Regions from separate parts of the Homo sapiens genome. Here region 2 is linked to region 1. A link means that fine-mapping ties the variant in region 1 to the expression of a gene that starts in the linked region. Tissue or cell type: subcutaneous fat. Region 1 holds a variant in brackets; the other region holds the start of a gene. All regions are shown on one strand. Distances are between the middles of the regions.

Evidence for each region. PIP is the estimated chance that this variant, and not a neighbour inherited with it, causes the effect. A credible set is the group of variants that fine-mapping cannot tell apart.
Region 2: it holds the start of IGSF1, and the variant in region 1 is the best candidate, but not a certain one, in a credible set for the expression of IGSF1 in subcutaneous fat (GTEx, PIP 0.57).

Annotation. Positions count from the first base shown.
Region 1 is chrX:131,541,062-131,549,245 of GRCh38, forward strand. It overlaps OR13H1 (olfactory receptor family 13 subfamily H member 1), which reads left to right and starts at 3,013. Exons shown (of 1, transcript NM_001004486.1): 1 at 3,013-3,939. The coding sequence starts at 3,013. The coding sequence ends at 3,939. The variant C/G (reference allele first, on the strand shown) is at 3,561.
Region 2 is chrX:131,285,426-131,293,609 of GRCh38, forward strand. IGSF1 (immunoglobulin superfamily member 1) reads right to left here and starts at 3,881. Exons shown (of 20, transcript NM_001555.5): 1 at 3,789-3,881; 2 at 1,180-1,316; 3 at 1,012-1,038; 4 at 342-623; 5 at 1-41. The coding sequence starts at 1,249. RefSeq lists an enhancer at 5,360-6,077.

The sequences.
Region 1 (8,184 bases):
CTTTCCTGGATATATGGATTTACCTTTGTTGTGCACCTAGCCTATCTGATAGGCTGAAAAAGGTAGACAATGTGACACAGGGATAGCTTACTAGAAGGCCATGACATGGAAGGGAAACGTTAGGAAATTTTCTTTCTTAAAGACTTTTAAGGGCCAGGAGCCGTGTCTTACGCCTGTAATCCCAGCACTTTGGGAGGCTGAGGCGGGCGGATCACCTGAGGTCAGGAGTTTGAGACCAGCCTGGCCAACATGGTGAAATCCCGTCTCTACTAAAAATACAAAAATTAGCTGGGCATGGTGTCGGGCACCTGTAATCCCAGCTGCTTGGGAGGCTGAGGCAGGAGAATCACTGGAACCCAGGAGACGGAGGTTGCAGTGAGCCAAGACTGCGCCACTGCACTCCAGCCTGGGTGACAGAGTGAGAATCTATCTAAAAAAAAAAAAAAAAAAAGATACTTTTTAGGACAAGACAAGTGAGAGAGTTTCCCATTTCAGAGATGATTAGGGATACTTCATTTCTTAGAAAACCGCTTCTGTAGCCTACATGTCTCTCCAACAAAGGAGAAAAATGTAACACATTTCAATACTCTGCGGAGTGAGTTCTTTTTTTCTTTATCTGAGGGAAGTCGAGAATCCTAGCTTGTTAAAACTAGACGGGACCTTAGAGATAATTTAGTTTAACAAGATTGGAAATAAAAATTCAGGCACGTAAGGGGAAGAAACTTGTCTAGAGACATAGCAAGTGAGTAGCGGAAGCTGCAAGGAGGGGATTAGAAAGAAAATGGGAGTTAGTCTCATGGAGAAACACATATACATCAAAGGGGTGCTTAGCATAGAAACAGTAATGTCAAGGGAAGAGGCAGATGGAAAAAGAGAGGTTGCCTTTCAATAAGGAACAGCAAAAGAACTCCATTCACACATTCCTTCAGCAAATAATTATTGAGCTCCTATCTAGGTACTATTCTATATTTTGGGCACACAGCAATGAAGAAAACAGAAAAACCCTGACCTCACTGAGCATACATTCTAGTTGATAGAGACAAGCAATAAACATAATTAATAGATAAGCTATACAGTATGCTAGATGTAGTTCTAAGGAGAAAATAATGCAGGAAAGGGGGATATAAAATTTCAATGGCTAGAAATGAACTCCCAGACGAGGTGACCCAGAAAGGATGTAATGCAATTTCAGGGGCTGGAGATGAATTCCTAGATGACGTGACCCAGGAAGGATACACTGAAAAGATGCCTTGTAAGTAAAAACCTGAGGGAATTGAGAAGGTGAGCTGTGCAAGGATCTGGGTTTCATAAATATGGAGCAGAAAGTTTTTACAAATATAGAACAGCAGGATCAAAGGCTCTGTGAAAGGGATGGGCTTTGAGTATTTGAGGAATGGTGAGGAGGCTAGTGTGACTGGAGCAAAGTGAGCAAGGGAAAGGGTGGTAGGAGATGCGTTCAGAGAGGAGGTGATTGGGAGGCAAACCATATAGGGCCTCGTAGGTCATAGTAAGGAGATTGGTGTTTAGAGAGGCTGAAATGAGAATCTATAGTTAACAATATGATACTGTATACTTAAAATTTTATTAAGAGAGTAGGTCTTATGTTAAGTGTTCTTATTACAAAGATAAAAGAGAGAAGGAGGAAACTTTTAGGGATGTTTGTTATATTTACGGCATTATTTATGGTGGCCGTTTCATGAGTATATACTTATCTTCAAACTCAAGATGTATACATAAAATATGTGTACCTTTTTGTATATCAGTCATACCTCAATAAAAATAGAATAAATTTTTTAATGGAAGAGTGACCTGATTTCACTTACAGTTCAACTGAATCATCTGAACTGGATGGGAAGAAGACTAGAAACAGGAAAACCAATGACGAAGTTACTGGAAAAATCCAGGTGAATGATGATGATGCCTTGGAATAAAGAATGGCAGTGCAGGTGGCAAGAGGAGTAGGTAGATTCTGAATAACAGCTCTGAATGCTTAGGACTTTATATATTCATTTACTACCTATTGGGTTCTTGTGATCCCCCAGGTACTGTTCTATGTTCTAGGAATACACCAGTAAACAGCAGACAAGGGCCCTGTTATTAAATTCACATTTGAGTGAAAGACAAATAATAAGCAAGTAATCAAATTATTAATATAACTTCAGGTATTAGAATGTGTTATAAAAAATGAAGCAGGGCTAGGGGAAAGAGATGGGTGAGGATGGGATAAGAGAGCCTTTTCAGTGAGGCTACGTACTCAGACCCTCTCCTTACCACCCACACTTTTAGAAACTTCATGTTCAGTTTTCATACTCCTAACTGGGGCTCAACGACAACAGAATAGAAAATGTAGGAGAAGCTAGAAATGTAACTTCAGCAGGGGATATTAGAAGAGGGTCCTCCCAGACCTCACTACTACATCTACATAATATCAGCTCAGGTCAAAGAGCTACCTTGCACCCACTCTATGTCAGGCACCGTGGTAAATTCTGGAACTATGGAAAAATGAAGGCATGCACAATCTAGGAGTGAGAGACATCCCAAACATAGACAATATTTTAGCTAAGACATGTGTCAGAAGGTACCCTGTTGGTTGAGATTAATAACTCAAGCTAACTGAGATTCAACCATGTCTACATATCAGATTTATCTTGGAAAATGACGTGAGAAAGTCAGGAAGATGGCCTACCTTTCCTGTCTTCTTAGTTAGGAAAAATTATTCAAGAAGACCTCTAGTGGAGGAGGGCTGGAGAAATTTTCATATAACTATTTTCAAAAAGATAAGGAACTTTCCATTTTCTTAGGATTGAGGGAGGATATCTAGCTTTGCCTCTGTTCCCATTATAGATATCTATTCCATTTGTGTCCCATTCTTCTGAAAAGGACAAAGATAATGATCCTGCACACCCTAATTCTTTCCACCTTTCTCACACCCTCCATCTTTATTCCCATTCTTTCAGGTAACACTAAGTAGCCAATTGGCATCCATTTAATGAATAGTGGCAAGAGGGAAAGATGGCCATGGACAATGTCACAGCAGTGTTTCAGTTTCTCCTTATTGGCATTTCTAACTATCCTCAATGGAGAGACACGTTTTTCACATTAGTGCTGATAATTTACCTCAGCACATTGTTGGGGAATGGATTTATGATCTTTCTTATTCACTTTGACCCCAACCTCCACACTCCAATCTACTTCTTCCTTAGTAACCTGTCTTTCTTAGACCTTTGTTATGGAACAGCTTCCATGCCCCAGGCTTTGGTGCATTGTTTCTCTACCCATCCCTACCTCTCTTATCCCCGATGTTTGGCTCAAACGAGTGTCTCCTTGGCTTTGGCCACAGCAGAGTGCCTCCTACTGGCTGCCATGGCCTATGACCGTGTGGTTGCTATCAGCAATCCCCTGCGTTATTCAGTGGTTATGAATGGCCCAGTATGTGTCTGCTTGGTTGCTACCTCATGGGGGACATCACTTGTGCTCACTGCCATGCTCATCCTATCCCTGAGGCTTCACTTCTGTGGGGCTAATGTCATCAACCATTTTGCCTGTGAGATTCTCTCCCT[C/G]ATTAAGCTGACCTGTTCTGATACCAGCCTCAATGAATTTATGATCCTCATCACCAGTATCTTCACCCTGCTGCTACCATTTGGGTTTGTTCTCCTCTCCTACATACGAATTGCTATGGCTATCATAAGGATTCGCTCACTCCAGGGCAGGCTCAAGGCCTTTACCACATGTGGCTCTCACCTGACCGTGGTGACAATCTTCTATGGGTCAGCCATCTCCATGTATATGAAAACTCAGTCCAAGTCCTACCCTGACCAGGACAAGTTTATCTCAGTGTTTTATGGAGCTTTGACACCCATGTTGAACCCCCTGATATATAGCCTGAGAAAAAAAGATGTTAAACGGGCAATAAGGAAAGTTATGTTGAAAAGGACATGAGCCTTCTTTGCTTCTAAACGTCTAAAATAACACAACGTCCCTGATGGAGAAAATGGTTTAAAGGATCTGACTTTATCTTTGGAAGTGATTGACATATGAGAAGCTTCAGGAAGTGCTCCCACCCCAAATATTATTCCTACTGAGACTTGAATTGCCATTAGAGGTATTATTTTTGCTCTTTCTTTACATAGAATATTGTTAGTGGCTACCCATTAGGTTACTCACCTTCAGGTAAATGAACTTATCAGAGTAATTTTCTCACTGACAGAAGAGACCTATACAGCAAGAGAATCTTCTGTAACTGTTGACAGCAGGTGAGGCATAACTGAAATTGGAAACTAAGACAAAGAATGGTATAATAAAAGGCCAGAAGACAAATGTCAGAAACTTTACAACTTTACTGAGGGTAAGCCCTGTTACGTAAGCACAATCTCCTTGTTTCACTTAATCTTGGAATCATGAGAAAAATTATCATAGCTATTTCCTACATTTGTGTAGAGTGTTTTATTTTTGCTTTTTGTTTTTCAAAACATCTTTCTAATCTATTAGTCTATTTTATATCCCTAATTTTCCTATGGAATTGGTAAAAACACCACCACAATTTCCCTCTGTATTAACAATGAGGAAACAGAGTAGACATTGAGACTCATCTAAAGTCATACATAATTGATAATGGAGTCAAAATTAGAATTTAGATCATATATATGCCACCTCCGAATTTGTAAAAGTAAGTCTGTAAAATTATTTAGAATCATAGAATTATAAATACAGCTACCATTTATTGAGAACTTATGATACGCTAGGGGTTGAGCAAAGCTCTCTATATCTATTATCACATAGAATTCACACAGTGGTTCAATGCCATGGCACTATTTTCCATCCATATTTAGAAGTGTGGAAACTGAGTGATTTGCCCATGGCCACAGAGCCAGTACTTAAATCTAGGTCTGGTTGATTCCAGATCCCACTTACTATATCTAAAGGCATAAGAAACCCTAGAGATGACTAATGTAGTGATATTTTAATCCACTTTATCATGACATAATTTGTATACAATAAACTTTGTCCAATTACAGTGTGCAATTCTATGAGTTTTGACAGATGCTCACAGCATCACCACAACAATCAGCTACCTAACAATTTCATCACCTACAGAAGTTTCCTTTTGCCTTCTTGTAACCCATCCCTTCCTCCCTCTACCCCCAATTCCAACCAGTGATCTGATTTCTTTCACTATATGTTAGTTTTTGTTTTTTTAAATATTGACTATAAATAAAATCATGCAGTCTGTACTCCTTTGTGTCTGGGTTCTCTCACTCAGCCTGCTCTTGAGATTCATCTATATTGTTGCATGTATCCGTAATTTGTTCCTTTTTATTGCTGAATAATATTTCATTGCACACATTTACCGCATCTTAAAACCCATTTTCTGTTGATGGACATAATGCAATGTTTTTCAAATCTTGATTTATATAGTTTTTAGGGACTCAATTGTGGTGCCTGGAGCCTGCTAATGGGGGGTCGTTTCCTGTGAGCTATTTCATTTGAAAAGGGAGTTCTAAAACTAAAAGGAACGGTTTTGATAAACAATGATCTATTACAGGTAACCGATTTTAGATGAGAAATCTAAGGCTCACTGAATGTGGAGTAAATTTCCCAAGATCATGAAACTGTTTGGAAGCAGATCTAGAACGAAGACCCAGATATCCTGTCTCCTGGTCTCACTTTACTTTGGGCCTCCACCACATATGATGAAGTCATCTCCCAAGAAGCCTTTTCTACCTGTTTGTGAGGAACCAGACACAAACAGGTAGAAAAAAATAAAATGCACAGTACCCAGCACTACTGAGCAAACAGATACTCAGTGTGTTCCTCTTACTGTGACTGCTGGGGGGCTGAAGAGACATTGTATGGTGTTGCAAAGGGAGTACCATGGATACAAGGAGACTGTCTTACGTGTTTACTAACTAAATGAAAAATAATTGAGGATGAATAAACTACTTATCAAAACAGCTTAATTTCAAAACAAGTGCAAGATTTATTCAAACCGTATACTTTTTTTTTAATTATTATACTTTAAGTTTTAGGGTACATGTGCACAATGTGCAGGTTAGTTACATATGTATACATGTACCATGCTGGTGTGCTGCACCCATTAACTCGTCATTTAGCATTAGGTATATCTCCTAATGCTATCCCTCCCCCCTCCCCCCACCCCACAACAGTCCCCACAGTGTGATGTTCCCCTTCCTGTGTCCATGTGTTCTCATTGTTCAATTCCCACCTATGAGTGAGAACATGCGGTGTTTGGTTTTTTGTCCTTGTGATAGTTTACTGAGAATGATTTCCAATTTCATCCATGTCCCTACAAAGGACATGAACTCATCATTTTTTATGGCTGCATAGTATTCCATGGTGTGTAAGTGCCACATTTTCTTAATCCAGTCTATCATTGTTGGACTTTTGGATTGGTTCCAAGTCTTTGCTATTGTGAATAGTGCTACAATAAACATATGTGTGCATGTGTCTGTATACATTTTTAAAGGTACATGGTACTCTTCATCTCTGAAATAATGTTTTAATATTGAGAAAGAAAAAAATTCAGAAAAAGGCAAATGAATTCAATCTTTAATTTATCCATTTAACAAACATTAGGTTTGTACTTTAAGGCAGGCACTATGCTAGGTATTAGGGTAAGTCTCATGCTTTGTGCAAAATGTTCCTTACTATCAAGATAAACCTTTCAAGCAAACATTGTGAAATAAACATAAACTGGCACAATCAATGAAATATTAAAAGAATCAAAGAGTGTCTTCGCACAGAGGAAAATTCAGAAATTAGGTGGAATATTAAGAGTATAGGTTTTAATGATTCTGCCTTTGGAGGGAAAAATATTTCACTCTCTATTACAGGTTGGTTTACAGCTTAAAATGGGATGCACATTTTCAATAATGGTCCCTCTACTACAAAATAGTATAGCTATGTCACTAGGTTCTTTCTCCCTTTATTGACTTGTTGGTATGGGCACAGCCTACAGACAGAGTGACATAGTGGAGTCTGGAGATGAAGGTTGTGGAATTGATTCTGCTACTAACAAGCTGTGTAACCTTAGTTATATCTCTCTCTGGCCTTTAAACTTGCTTATCAATATAACAGGAAGATTGTGTTTAGCTACCTAAAGACCTCTCTAGTTCTAACATTCTGCATCCGGGTGTTATTTTATATAGGGCTTGCTCTTATTTTCTTAAAAAATGCAAGCATATCATCAATTTACTCTGCAACTTGCTTTTTCCACTTGACAATATATCATGAACATTCCTCCAGATCAATATATATAGATCTATCTCTCTGACTTTAAATGTTAGCTTTGACTGAAAAAGAAGGCAAACACGGCAGCTAGTTAACACAGCTCTGGCCCTTCCAGCATTAACATTCAGTTTCTAGGCACTAACTCTAGAGGCTATCTAATTTTACATTGATATTAATTTATTTTAAAGATAAAAATGAACTCTGTGAGGGTGTTGTGAAATGAAATCAATGCTGGGCTTTTGAAAATTCCTGAGATTGAGTAGTGCTTCTCTGCCTGATCAATCACAAGGATCCTGTGAAACCTTCCACTGGACTCCTCCCTACTCCCCATCCCCAATGGCTGAGTAGTGAAGCTTACCTTGCTTCACCCTGGAAAGAAAGATGGAAAGACTGTGTTGAAACTAAGATGGTTCTGTCAAAAGTTGAGAAGAAAGTTTACAAACTGAAAAGCAGGCTCCAAATGATCATTTCCATGGAAATATTCATGGAGATTTCAGAAAAAGATACAGTGCCCCATTTATAGGATTTGGGTTTTCAGTTGAAGAGAGGCAGTGGAGTATAACTACTTAGAGCACAAGCCCTGGGGCAAAACTTGTTAGATTCAGTCCTTCCTTCTGCCACTTCTTCACTCAAGTTACCCCCTGCTTAGGTCTCTTCACCTGTAAAGTGTAGCACTCAGTTCGATCAGGCAAACAGAAACTACTCTATAGTTATTTCAGGAAGGCATTTAACACAGAGAATTAGGGGCCTACAAAGCCTTTGGAAGGGCTATGAGAGAAAAGGTAAGGGAACTACCAGCAAAATGAGACAGTTGTAGGAATTGCAGGAATCATGGGAAATTTTAGAGATTGTTAGGAAACTGCTGCTAATGACGTCACTGAAGCAGATGTTTCACAAGAGAATGCTCAGAAATCACTTAAATCTTTTCTGATCAAG
Region 2 (8,184 bases), 260 kb before region 1:
GGTCTCAGCCTGAATCCAGAAGATGGGCTTGGGCAGTTGGCCTGGAAGGATAGAATGAACTGGAATTAGGTAAAGCAAGGATAGTACTGTCTAGGGAGCAGCAGAGGAGAGCTCTACTTTAATTGAGGTTTCCCTGTATGATCCTTGTTTGCCACCCCTCCTTCTCCTATCTCTGCTCCAGAGTCTGCATCCCCCCTCTGCATTGCCCAATACAAAGTAGGCCCTTATTTACTAACTGTGGGATGCATGCTTGCATGCATTTGTGAAACAAACTCTCCCCTGGAAGGCAAGTTTGAATCTCAGGAGCTGGAGTTGATTCTTGAGTATCACTGTCATCTTACCTGGTGCCTCCAACTCTAGAACTTTACTGGGCTTTGACCAGCCTGTCTCCTTCCAGTAGCAGCACCGGTAAAGACCTGCATTGGACTCAGTAAGGGCACCTATAAGGAATGAAACTTGGAAGGTCTTGTGGGAAGGGCGGATCCAGGTCATCTGTGTCTTATCCTTCAGCAGCAGGAACTTGCTTGATATCCGAGAGGGGCTTCGGCACCAAAGCGTGATGTTCTCCCAAGGGGCCTGGGGGTAGTTGGACTCTATCCACAACTCTGGTTGAGGGTCCATCACTGTTATTCCCAAAGATCAAAAAGATATGAGCAGTCCAACCCTCTCCCTCCCATAACATGTCCCACAATGTCCCTTAAAATTAGCCCGGACCCAGATCCCTCATTTTGTCTTCCCTTGGGGACAGGAGTGTGCTCCTGTGGGGCATCGTATAAGAACCCCAAGATATTTTGTCAAGGGGTCCAAATGAATTGGAGAATAAAGTCTGATGGTCTCTTTTCCATCTGAGATAAAGCTTTTTCACCATGCCATAGGAAACCAAGTCCTCTGATTCCCAATCAGCCCAATCTATCTCTGGAATCTCAAGGCATTATGTCCAAGGTCATGGAGACACGCCAGCATCTTGGATCCTTTAGGAAGGAGGTGCCTGAGAGGGCAGGACTCACTTACCTATTGATGTCATACCCAGACTCATCCCTGAAAAGAGAGATTATGGTAAAGGAGAGCTCCCTTGTTGTCTCCATCCTGTGCTCAAACCTCAATACTTTCCTCTCCCACCCCTAATGAGTGGGTACCTATGACAGGGTCACTTGCCCCTCACCCCTTCCTTGTACTCACGAATGCAAAAGAGCAAAACAGTGAATGTCTTCAGCATGGTGGCCCCCTCCCCTGGTCTGTCCAGGGTCATGGGGCCTCTGGTGCTGGCTGTGTGCTCTGAGTCTTGAAGAATTTTTCTCCTCAGCAGGTGGTGGGATCTAAAAGCAGAATTGTTTTTACTCAGAGGACTTGTCCTGCTCCTTAAAGTTTAGTTTAGATGGCTAAATTGCACTTGACAACCCTACATTGTACTTCCTCACAGGCATGCAGGGTATTACAAGGTCACCTGCTGCTTCCTCTCCTTGCTCCTTTCCCTCACTTCCCTATCCTGCTCAAGGTCTTTGTTGGTATCAAAGATGTCAGATTTGTTGAAATATGGATTTGTCTCTGGGATCTCAGAAGCCCAGAATAGCCTGCAGAAGCTCCACAGGATGGGGGAGATGGGAGGTGCAGAGTCACCTTTTCAGATATGCATATATATATATATACGTATGTTTATATACGTATATATATGTGTATATACATGTATATATATGTGTGTATATATACGTATATATGTGTGTATATATATACGTATATATGTGTGTGTGTGTGTATATATATATATAGAGAGAGAGAGAGAGTCCTCCAACAACTTAAGAGAGGGGGCATTACTACCATCCCCATTTTACTGATGAACAAACTGAGGCTTAGAGAGGTTATATAATTTGCCCAAAGTCAAAAGATATTAAATATTAGAGCCCAAATTAGAATCCATGTTTAACTCCAAGGCCTATGGATCTAAAACAATGATTTAAACTCCCAGAGGTACCCTTCACTCCCTCTTCACCCTCCCTTACCCCTCTCACTTGATCCCTTGGATATCCTTCCCTTCCATAGAATGCTTTAGATCCAATATTACTCTCATTCTTGTCTCCTACCCCTAAAAGCTCAATACCCCAGTGTCAAGCATGTGTTAGAAAATCAAGCTGCTTGAGTTAATTTACATAAGGTCTAAATGATTCTTTCGTTGCCCTTAACTTCTAAACAGTTTTGTTGATTGCCTCTAAGGGAAATGGAATTGTTTGAATCTCAGGAAATACGGCAAAGATATTTGAGTTCAGGGAGGCTTTCCATTCTCCCTGACCAAAGTCATTATTTACCATAGGCCTTGCATATACACAAGGTAGACTCTTGAGCTTTCATGCCTCTCTCCACCTCCCCCCACAGTAACCTTTCACCAAGGGAAGGTATGTCCCAGCCACGCAAACTCAAGCTAATTCTCTTCCACCAACTTTCTACTGGGAGTCTGAAGTCCTGGCTGACTCCAGCTGTTATTAAATCTTAGCTCAGAAGAGTGGGGAAGAGGCAGCTCCCAGAATAGAGAAAGGAACTGATTTTGCTTTTCCAGACTGACCTTGGACCTCAGCCTCAAACTTGCCCCAGTGCTAACACTGGGTAGGATGGAGGAGCAGGAAGAGGAGGATATTTCGTGTTCAAAATATCTGGACTGTAGGGAACAAGTGGACAGTGAGAAATCCAAGGAAGCATAGGTCCATTGTACATTTTTCACTTTGTATCAAAGGATTTTCAGATTACCCACTCTGAATTTTCCTTATCTGTAAAGTGGAGGAGTAATATCGACCTAACATTATTGTTGTGTTGGGTTAGAGATAATACATGTACAGTGCCAGGCACATAGTGAACATTACATTTTAAAAAGATGCTTATTTTTTCTTCTTTTCAAAGGGGGCATCCAACTGGTGTAGGGCCCTAAAGATGCCCTTTCCATCTCAGTTCCTACAGTCCCTTGCTCCCACTCCTCTCAGGGCCAGGCCAAAGCTTGGATGCTACCCTGTTGCTTTGTTACCCTGGGGCTTTGGGCCAGGAGTTTTTGGGGGAAGCCAGGTTCCACTGCCAAGGGAGAGGTTCAACCTGGGATTACACCCAGGAAATGCCATCTGAGGTTTCAGCCTTGCCACTTGGACCCCTAAACCAGGATCTTTGCCTACTGGGGGATTGAGGGGAGTCAGGGAAGCTGGGCTTTTTGGCATGGCTGACCCCTCCTCAATCACTAAGGAAATTGTACCATTTATATTCAGCCCAGATGATGAATCTTATACCGGGGGAACATGAGAACAGCCCCAAGCCTTGGGTTAGTTGGCCACGCCCATTTTGGCCTTTCACCCCACCCCCACCCCCAACTTTGGCTGCCTAGCCGTTTTACCCTTCCCTCCTACTCCACCCCAAGCACTTTCCCCACCCTTAGGCAGCGCCGCAGTGCTTTTGAGGGTGACATATCTGAAATGTCTAATGGCTCGCCCCCTGCATAGCTTTGAGGGCTCCAGGAATCAAAGGGGTTGGGCTCGGCGGGGTGCCGGGTACATGCTCAGCTGAGGGTTTGGAGGGAAGACTGAGAAGGAAAAGGGGAGATATCTACAGTGCCCAGAGATTCTCACCGAGGCAGGTCTGGGATCCGGGAAGGAAAGGAGAAAGGCAGGAATGAAGCGGGTGGGGGGACAGACTGGGGAGCAGTTTGATTTACGGCAATTAATTACAGCAAGGAGACTCTTTCGGGGTTTTGTTTAGGATCCGGTGGCCAGTATTTAATATTCAGCCACTGAACTATGCGCTCATTTGTAGGTACTTACGGTAGTTGAAGGCCCGCTCCGATGTTGGAGATTCTCCAGTGAGCTCCTCCAGATGCAGCAAACTGCCCGGCATGAGAAGAGCTGTCTAAGGACAGCCTCTTCGGCTCTGAGCCCCGCCTTCCTCTCTCCCCCGCCCGCCTGCCGGCCCGCCCCAACCTCCTCCCCTCCCTGCGCCGGGCTCGGGGAGCCCACCTACACCAACTCTGCCTGGCACCTGCAGTCCTCTGACGACGGGGATTTCTACGCCCCTCCCAGCTCCCCGCCTCTCTCCGGACTCCCTGCAGAGGTTGCTGGAGCCAAATTCAGGCCCCTGCCCCCTCGCCTGTCTCTCAGAGTTTCACTGGGTCACTGTATTGTGGGGGGGAGAAGGCCAGCTCTCAAGAAGATTTGTAGATCCTTCTCTCCAGCTCCCCAATACCTTTATCGGGATCTCAGATCTTCCCCTGCCCATTTTAACGCCCCATTTATGCATAAACATCACCACAGTTTAAGTGCCTACTGTGTGCCCCTGGGCCCTGGGATCCATTATTTCTCATCTTCAGAGCAACTCTGCAAAATAAGTGTTACTCCCCTCAGTTTTACAGATGAGGAAACGGAAACTCAGAGAGGGTTAAGTAACTTGGACAGCCTTCAAAGTCCATCTTGGGGTAAAAGCCCAGGCTTTAGAGACATACAAATGTATATTTTAGTCCACATTTTACATTCAATAGTTGTGTGACCTCAAGCAAGTGAGTAAACTCTCTGAGTCCCAGGTTCCCCAACAGTAAAGTAAAAAACAAACAAACAAACAAAAAACAGCAGAACCTATTTCACAAGGCCTCAATGGGATGATGTAAGTAAAACTAACAGCACAATAGGCCTAGCATGTAGTAGGTGCTCAATAAATGGTAGTGGTTGCTGCTGCTACCACTACTACTACTACTATTAATCTGTAAGCCCTTCCCCAAATGTCTTAGAGTAACATGATTTTAATAATATAGAGCAACCTTTCACAAATGTTGATTATGAAAGACTTTTTATAATGATAATGTATGAATAAGACACTAATCAAAGCTCCTGATATATAACATATGATGAGATTAAAGTATAGCATCCAATGGGCTCACAGACTAATTGATAAGAAATATCAACATGATAGACTAATTGGCTAAAAAATAGACAAATTTTTCTTTATGTACATTTCCTTTTTTTTAAGACAGTCTCACTCTGTCGCCCAGGCTGGCGTGCAGTGGTGCGATCTTGGCTCACTGCAACCTCCACCTCCCAGGTTCAAGCAATTCTCCTGCTTCAGCCTCCCGAGTAGCTAGGATTATAGGCGCGCACCACCACACCCAGCTAGTTTTTGTATTTTTTAGTAGAGACGGGGTCCCACCATGTTGGCCAAGCTGGTCTGGAGGCTCAGCCTCCTAAACTGCTGGGATTACAGGCGTGAGCTACCATGCCCAGCCTTTTATGTACATTTTCTACCTGCATAAAAGATTTCAAATTATCTAATGAAAAACACTTTAATTCAAGAACAAACTGTGTAAAAATAAAGTAACAGCTCTTTTACAGCCAAATTGATTATCATATCTTCATGCATCAGGTGATATCAATTGTGGCTTCCATTATAAACTATAGATTATTGTGTAATGAATAGAATAGGCATATGAATAAAAAGATGTGTTTCTGGGCAAGTTATTTAGCCTCCAAGCCTCAGTTTTCTTATTTGTAAAATGGGGATAATAATTGCACTTACTACAATGAAGGGTTTGGGGTAGGATTGAATGGAAACCTTCCTGTAAGCCACCACATAGCACCTAGGACACAGCAAGCAGCCATTGATTCAACACAAATGTTAAGTACTTTCTTTGTGTCAGGGATTGTTCTAGATGCTGACAGTTCAGAAAGGATGACAGTTTCTCTTCTTAAGGAGTTTGTAGTCTAAGGATAAATCATACTAGAGAAGAAGTAGGAGGCAGCCAGAGAAGGAGGAGCCTTGAGAATCAAAGAGGATTGCAATAGAAAAGATCATCAAGTAAGTCATGATAGTATGTGTTTGGATAATTGCAAGCACTTTGCTTGTACTGTGTGCCTAAACTAGGGAGCAGTAGCAGAGAAGGAGGGGAGGGTCAGAGTTCCCAAAACATTGAGAAGGCAACATTAGACAAACTTGATGGTTGTTTGGAAGACAACAGTAATAGTTATTATCTGTCAGGGTGAAAACATCCATGCCAATTTTCAAAACATTTACAGTATAGAAGAGCTTCAAGAAAGTGGAGCTTGAAGGATAGAGGTGAAGCACCAAGGTTCACAGGGTGTTGTGGGAAGCCTTTCTCCATAAGCGAGTCTAATGTAAGATGATGATATTTTTTAAACCTAACTCTGTTTTATATATCCCAAACAGGAGAAGCCCAGGGCAAACCTGATCCCTTCCCAGTGTTGTACTGATGTTGGCTAGCTCTGTATGGTTCAGGAGAACCCAATGTGCACATCTTATCTCATCCCAGCATTCAATGACATAATGGTAGTAGCTTGAAAGTGGCCATGGTCAGAGAATTTTCACCACAGTCAGGGAATTTTCACAACTGAAGAAGTAAATGCTACAAATCAAGTTTCTCCCAGCAACCTTCACATCTCTGGAGCTGTTTTTAAACATTTACTAGCAAACCACTTTTTTTCCAGTTTTATGTTTTAGGACAGTGATTTTTACTGGGAAACAGGAAGGTTTCCAAACTGCTCAAGGATCCTGTTAAGTTTCATACACTCTCAAGAAAGTTATGAGCACTGTGCTCCATTCCCCTGTCCCCAACCTCACTACTCTAGTAAGCCATCTGAGGACTGTGTCAGATCTCTGGAGAGGTCTGTGCATTCAAAGTTTGACTGTGTGTTTTAGCATCCCACCCCACTCCTCAGCCAGTCCCAGGCCCCATCCCTTTCTGCAATGGAGAAGCAATGTGGAGTATACCAGTGAGGAACTCAGCTGGGACTAAGCAAGTGGCGTTCTGGGGCAGGGAGGAGGTCCAACCAGACAGATTAGGTTCCAACGGCAAGACCTGATGAGGAGGGGGTTAGGCTTTGGAGGTGGGGAGGTCAAAGCTGCAAAGGAAAGCTGGGGCCAACTCACAGAGCTTGAATTTCAACTTATCTTTTGTCAAGCACTTTAATTATTAAGGGCAGAGTTTGGGGCACTAAGTCATTTCCAGAAGCTATAACTGAGGGCATTTTCAGGAGTGTGCAGGAAGCTTCCTAGAATAAACCAAATTCAAGTGATGAATTAGAACTAAAACTTATTTAATCAAAACACTCATAGTGGGGCATTAGACATTAGATAGAGGCCTGGATGATCAGGCTTCTGGGTGCTTGTCACAAAGCAAACCAACAATGTGAATACCTAGGTGATTTTAACAAGTTTAATGGGTGGAGGGAGAAAATGAGGATTTTTGTGTGTGTGTTTCAGTGTTAGCAGAATCACAAAGTTCTTTTTGGTTTATGTACCATTTACCAAAAAAGGTAATCTACTAGTCCACTGTCTCCAAATGACAATTCTCTTAGCATCACAATATGGCTTTTGTTTATACGAGGAACAGTGTGTATCTGAGTACATGGTGGGGGAGGGTGTTCAGAGACAGATATCCAAAATGCAGGAGAGCTCCGAAAGTGGGCTTCAAAGTGTTTCAGTATTCCCTTTTCCTGTGTTGGATGAAGTTGGTGGCTCCAGAATGAAAGGAGGTAGGCTCAGCCTCACTGCCTAGAGCAGGCAGGCACAGGTTCTATAAGCAGTTTAGGCCTGATCCAGGAAGGATGCTTCCAGATACCAGTGCCAGGAAAGCCTTTTTCTGTCTCAGAGTCTGACTTGCCCCCAGTGTGTCCAAATTGTAGGCATTTGCATGGTGGGGCAGGGGTGGGAATGGGTGTGTTGTGGTGGGGGGATGGGGGGGGAGGGGGGAATGCCGCTTGGGAAGGCACAACTGGTCTCTCTAATATTTATTTACTCGTAATCACTTGTCCAAAGGAAACTATAGAAGTCAATAATTTGGTTCTTTTATTCCTACGTATTGTATGATTAAACAATTATATGATTAAAATTAAGTAAAGATGGCTAAACTGCAAGAGCAACACAAATTAGCAATTTAAAAACTCATCATTGCAATATTACCAACTGTTTATAATCTGTTCCTAAAAACATCAGTTTACAGGCAATTATTTAAATATACATGCATCTCTTCCAATTCTACTTGTTTTGTGATCTAGGATATGGTCAGACTTTCTGAAAGATTCATGTACCCTTGACAGAAGATGAGGAAATACTTTCTCCATAAAAGTCTGTTAAGTTCATATAATTGATTGCTTTCAGGTAGACAATACAAATTATTTTTTTTCTTAATCTATCATATTTCAATGTCTCCCTATCCAA